2 separate regions of the Homo sapiens genome follow, and region 1 is linked to region 2. Evidence: fine-mapped expression QTL. A gene starts in region 2. The other region holds a variant in brackets. All regions are shown on one strand. Distances are from middle to middle. Region 1 overlaps MITF (melanocyte inducing transcription factor). Region 2 holds the start of MITF (melanocyte inducing transcription factor).

The links.
Region 1: its variant is fine-mapped to the expression of MITF in thyroid (GTEx, PIP above 0.99). The same link has a PIP of 0.9 or more in lung.

The regions. Positions count from the first base shown.
Region 1 is chr3:69,865,965-69,868,875 of GRCh38, forward strand. The region is part of intron 1 of MITF (melanocyte inducing transcription factor); the gene reads left to right. Among named protein-coding and RNA genes, the nearest start is that of MITF, 130 kb to the left of the region's middle. RefSeq lists a promoter at 1-314 and a cis regulatory region at 128-229. The variant T/G (reference allele first, on the strand shown) is at 1,522.
Region 2 is chr3:69,738,126-69,741,036 of GRCh38, forward strand. MITF (melanocyte inducing transcription factor) reads left to right here and starts at 1,339. Exons shown (of 10, transcript NM_001354604.2): 1 at 1,339-1,576. The coding sequence starts at 1,473. RefSeq lists a promoter at 1-1,475 and a silencer at 1,275-1,574.

The DNA of each region.
Region 1 (2,911 bases), 130 kb after region 2:
CCAGTACCGGAGCTGGGTAAGGCTAAATAAGCTTCCCGAGGTGCTTGCCTGGCTGCTGGGCTGCCTCCCTGGCCGTGCCTGGGTCCTTGAGTAGCCCTCATTGTGGTGTGAGGCAGCGTTTTTGTCCTGCAGGTACAGTAGGTACTGGATTAAACAGGTCTGCTGTTGCAGACAGAAACCAGGCACCGTTCTAGCACAGAGCTGTGTTTGGATTGGAGTTTCCAGGGCCTTATCAGGAGCCACCCCTAGTGACACAGCCAGTGCCAGAACTAACTTTGACTTTCACTCTTCGCCAAGGGCTTGCAGAACACCTTAAAGGAAAAAAGATGGAGGCGCTTAGAGTTCAGATGTTCATGCCATGCTCCTTTGAAAGCTTGTATCTGTAAGTGAAGTTTTATTCTGGAAATAATCCCGGGACCACTTAAGAGGAGCAGTTTTTTTTCTCTTTAAGGGGGAGGATAAAGGAAGAGAAGGGTTTATTGGGAGTTAAAAATACTGAAGCTGTTACTTCTCACTGGCTTTAATCAGCTTCAGCTGTAACCTCTGGTAGGTGGCTATGACAAGGATAACAACTAATTTGGGGGTGGGGGTGGGGGTGGTAGATAGAAATGCTAACCCAATATCCTTGCCCTCTCCTTTAAAATTGAATACTGGTCTTAAGTTAATAATGACAAAAATACCGCGACTGCTTGAAAAATCTGAGTTAGAGCAGAGCTTGATTTATGATTGCAAGATAGACTGCAGCCCAGCTTTGTTATGAATAAAACAGGATTTTCTTCAGGAAAACTGTGTGTTTAATACAGTAGTAACATTTGTCCAAACTCTCCCATTGTAAACACTGTGAATTTTTGGTTTCTCCCCCCACCTTTTTTTTTTTTTTTTCCTGACTGTGGAATGGTAACAGTTGCATTAATGAACATCTTCTTTGCATTCTTGTATATTGATTTTTTTCTCTTGGAAGGGGAAACAGACATCCAAACATCAGAATTGTCTGCCTGGCATATAAATGTAGAACAAGTTTAAAAAATGGCAATTTCAAAGAAATATTAAAATGGAGAAAAACTAAACAGAGTATAGTTCCCCCCACATCCTTTAACATTTACTTTCACTGTTAGGTGATAAGATTTGAAAACAGTGCTAAAAGCTGTGTCCCCAAGTGAATAGGCATTCAAGCAAATCAACTTATGCAAAAGCTACCTCTGGAGCTTAATCATTATTTACTGAACGTTCCTGGGTCATGGGAGAGGTTCTGATTAAGTCAGAAAGGCATTATGTTCAGCAGCTTGTGAAGGTGTGTTTAAAGACAGCAAGAATAATGGAAAAATACTAGATGTAGCAGATCTATTTTTAGAATTTGATTCTTAAAAAATATAAATATAATTACCATAAGTTTAAGTGTGGGTTAAAGTTCATCATTTTCAGTAGATACATCTTTAAAAGGTCTTATAAAAGGTAGTTTTAAAAATGATTTCTAACTTCTTGAGCTTCTATTTCTGCTGCAGTTTGTTTTAACAGATACTT[T/G]AGATTTTTTTCATTCTTTATGTCGTCATAACAGCTTAATTACTCACCTCTATAAAATGTTAGAGCATTTTCTAAACAAAGTATATATAATTATGTGTTTAAAATGTCACTATGCTAGAAATGTTATAAATTTTTGCCTTATTAATGAGATACTAGCTGGGGAGATGATGTCTACTCTTTGTGATTCATTCTCTACAAAAATATACTCTAACTTACTAATTTTTTAATATTAATAATGGATGGCATGAACAAATGAAACTTGCTATTCTGATTCTACGTAAGAATGGTAGTAATGTCAAACCTGAATTCACAGCCAAATTAATTCTTAATTTTGAATTTCATTCTTTTAGTTAACTAAAATACTTGTCGTAAGAGCATGCTTCCCTTATACACTCTCAGAATGAAATTCTTCACAAACACGTTTGACAAAACTTGTTCACTGAGTTATTGCCCATTAACTTTTCTGTGCGTATTCTTTTAGGAGAGCACACACTGTGAATTAATTGTTTTGTATTTTCCTCTAGGAAAGAAAAGGAACATGATAGCAGAAGGCAGCATTCTAGAATTTTGGCTCCCTAGAAAGTAACTTGTCAGCTTTGACTCGTTTTTAGATATTAAGATGTTCAGCAGATACCATTTCAGGAATTAAAACACAGACTAGAAGAATTCATTGCCTAACTTTTACTCATGTCCACATGGTTTGTGGGAACTATGCTAAGTATTGTGCTTGTATTAACACATTTAATTTTCACAACTGCTCTATGAAGAAGATATGTCTTTCCACCCCCATTTTGCAGCTGAGAAAACTGAGGCTTGGATAGGTGAAAAACCATGCCCAAGTGATACAGCTAAGAAATGACAGGGCTAGGAATTTGACCCAGGGATCCTGGCTCCAGGGCTTAATGCTATTATCTGTTGTGGTCTGTGGATTTTCACTTAAGATACTAAATGAATCAATATTTCTTCCTCTGCTTTTTTATCTAGTGGGTTTCTCCTATCCCTAGATTTCTGAATTACCAAACTGTAACTCATTTGAGCTCTTGAGGGGCCGTGTTTGGTCCTGATGCCACGGTTTTCGTCTACCAGGTGTATTTCCCTGAGTCCAGTTCACCATTGATTATAAGACAGCTATTGGCTGGGCGCGGTGGCTCACGCCTGTAATCCCAGCACTTTGGGAGGACAAGGCAGGTGGATCATGAGGTCAGGAGTTCAAGACCAGCCTGGCCAACATGATGAAATCCCGTCTCTACTAAAAATACAAAAATTAGCCAGGCATGGTGTCCCGGGCCTATAAACCCAGCTACTATGGAGGCTGAGAAAGGAGAATTGCTTGAACCTGGGAGGTGGAGGTTGCAGTAAGCCAAGATCGCACCACTGCACTCCAGCCTGG
Region 2 (2,911 bases):
GGTAACTCCTGGGAGGTGCCCAGTTGTCACTGTAGCCTCTTTAGAATTTTCTCCTAGGACAGTCATTTAGTTTATTAATTCTGAAAGGCCAAACACCAAAATGAGATGTTAATCTGAAAGGAATAACTTCAAGACCTAATAAAGAATGACCACTGAGCAGAGTTTTTATAGATTGCAAATCACTTTCTCTTACATTTGACCTTGCAACATCTTCTAAAACTGGTTTGCCAATCTCTTCTTTTATGGATGAAGAAATGGAGGCTTCTAGGAACCAAGTGACATGCTCAGGATTGCACAGCTCTTCTTAGAAGGACTGGGGATTTCAACTCTGAGTCTTATACCTTTAAATGCCACTGTAACTCTATACTGCCTCCCTGATGCCTCAAAACACTTTTGAAAAGAAGGAACACGTCCTACTGGAGCTAATCAGAGGGAAGAACTAGAAGTACAAATGAGCCACAACGGAGAGTTTTAAAATTCTCTTCCCTAAGTGAGTTCCGGGAAGCTCGGGAAGGGGTGGACACTTGTACAGTTCACTTGTACATCTTCACTCCTGAAATGCTAGGACAAATCTCATTTGAACTCCCAGTCAACTGAGAAATTAAAAGCAGAGAGCAACGACGCTATTTTGTAACTTTGTGCCTTTTAAAATTAACCGAATCTTTCAATTGCTGCTGTAGATTAGAAGTGGCTACTTGGATAAAGGGGAAAGAGCCATTCAACTGATGAATACTATTGTAAAAGTCCAGACTTAGTTCTAGAAAAGGAACGCACAAGAACAATTTCTCCAATAACGTTTTCATTACAGAGCGAAGGAAAGTTCTTCCTCGTTGTTCCAATCCGAGGACAAGCTGATATGTCGCAGCAGCCCAGGGAAGCATGCGAGCTGATAGGAAGTCCTTTTATTTTAAGACAGGCTCGAATGCTAAAACTTTCTTGTGCCAAAACCCTTGACTATTTTATTTTTAAAATAAGCACTTGGCGTGCCCTCGCAGATGTCTGAGCTGAGAGGTCGGGGCGATGGTAGAAGAGCAGTCAGTGTCCATTCTTATTCATATTAAGTAGCCAAGTCTGTACCCTTGAAGCAAGTGGGGAGAGAGGAGGGAGAGGAGCTGCTGACATTGACAATGAATCCAAACAGGAGTTGCACTAGCGGTGTCCACCACGTTGCCTCTCCCCCGCCTGGCCTTCTGGGAGCTGTAGTTTTCGTGGGAGCGGCTCCCCAGGCGAGCTGGGAATGCCCCGCCCGGGCCGAACTACAGATCCCAGGCGGCGCTCGGCCGCCAGCCCCTCCCGCCCGGGTGCGAGTGTAAACTCCCCGCGCTGGGGCGGGCGGCCGCGAGCCGGCGAGCGGGCAGAGCTCGGCACTGCGCCGGGGCGCACGGCTCGGGGGACCCAGGCCCAGCTACCTTCCCTCCGCCCCCGGGCTCTGTTCTCACTTTCCAGCAGTGGAAGGACGGGAAGCGGGAGCCATGCAGTCCGAATCGGGGATCGTGCCGGATTTCGAAGTCGGGGAGGAGTTTCATGAAGAGCCCAAAACCTATTACGAACTCAAAAGTCAACCGCTGAAGAGCAGGTGAGTGGTGACAGCTGGGCAGAGGCGCACCGGGCGGCTGGGGGGCACTGCGTCTGCCACTCTGGGGCGAGGAGAGCGGGTCGCGGGAGCTCTGGGACAAGGACCCAGTGCCCTTGCCCCGGAGCAGAGGGCGAACTGCCCCTCGCAGTTGGGGGCCGCGCCTGCCCGGCCCAAGTGCGCCTTTAGGAAGCTCGGATGGAGCGCACTTCGCGGGGGCGCGGCGGGTCGCCGGGGACGAAGCGTCCAGGCGCGGGGACCCTCGGCCGAGGATGCCAGCTGCTGAGACTGATTGGGGGCTGGGGAGCGACCTGGCGCGATGTGGGGGAGGAGGAGCGCCGGGCCGGGACGCTGTCCCGGTGGGATGGGGGAGAAAGAGTTCTAGTGAACCCCCTTTCTGAAGATCCCAGCGGGTTGAGGGCTCGGAGAGGGAGAGCTTTGGGTGGACTGAGATGCGACATTGGAGGGAAGCAATTAGTTCGCTTGGAGTCACCTCTTGGGAGTCCGGTCTCTGTGGGGAAACTAGCCTCTGGGCTCCTGCAGGTGAGGTTTCTCTGGGCTCCGCCTCTCACCTCCAGACCGCTGCTAGCGGGCGCGGGAGGGGCCAGGGCAGCGGTGGGCGTGTCCCCTTGTTCAAGTTAAACTCTCTGGAAATAGAGTCCCATTCAAATCCAGGCCTTACCTGCAGAGGGGAAATGAGCCTTGGTCTTGGGGGTTACTGGGAGTGTACCCCGCTTGGCAGAGACACGTGTTTAATTCGCTGGGGACTTCAGAAACTTTTTAGACGAGGAGTGAAGACATCCACTGCTCTGATGCCCCATCCCCTCTAGTGCCCACTTCCCTTGAGCCACCCTTTTTGCTGCCTCCATTCCCACTTGTCTGTCGAAATGGATTGGGTGTCTTCCGTTCTCTCTGTCCGGCAGCCACTCTGGACGCCTCGTACTTCTCGTTTACAATGTTTCCTAAAAGGGACATGGTCAATGGAGGCTGGAATAGCTGAGAAGGGTTTATTTCCACCCCTCTAAGCTGTGAGCTAGGATAAGGCTATCATTGGAAGCATCCAGCAGGGCTTCTGCACTCGGCTGTAACTTCCTGCCTTGCCCTTCGCTGTGGATGGGGCCTGGGTGAATGGGCCTGGCTGGCAGAGTGGGAGAGGGTCTTGAAATGAGGGTGAGTGGAGAAGGGCAACTGAACGGGGAGCCAAGTGGTGTAATCTTGGCCTCTGGCGAGCACTGGGCTGGTTCTTTTTCTAGTGGAAAGTGCAGCCAGGTTTATTTCCTTCAGGGCTGTGGCAGGACTCTTTATCCAAGTTGGGGAAGAAAATCTGGGAACAGCGGT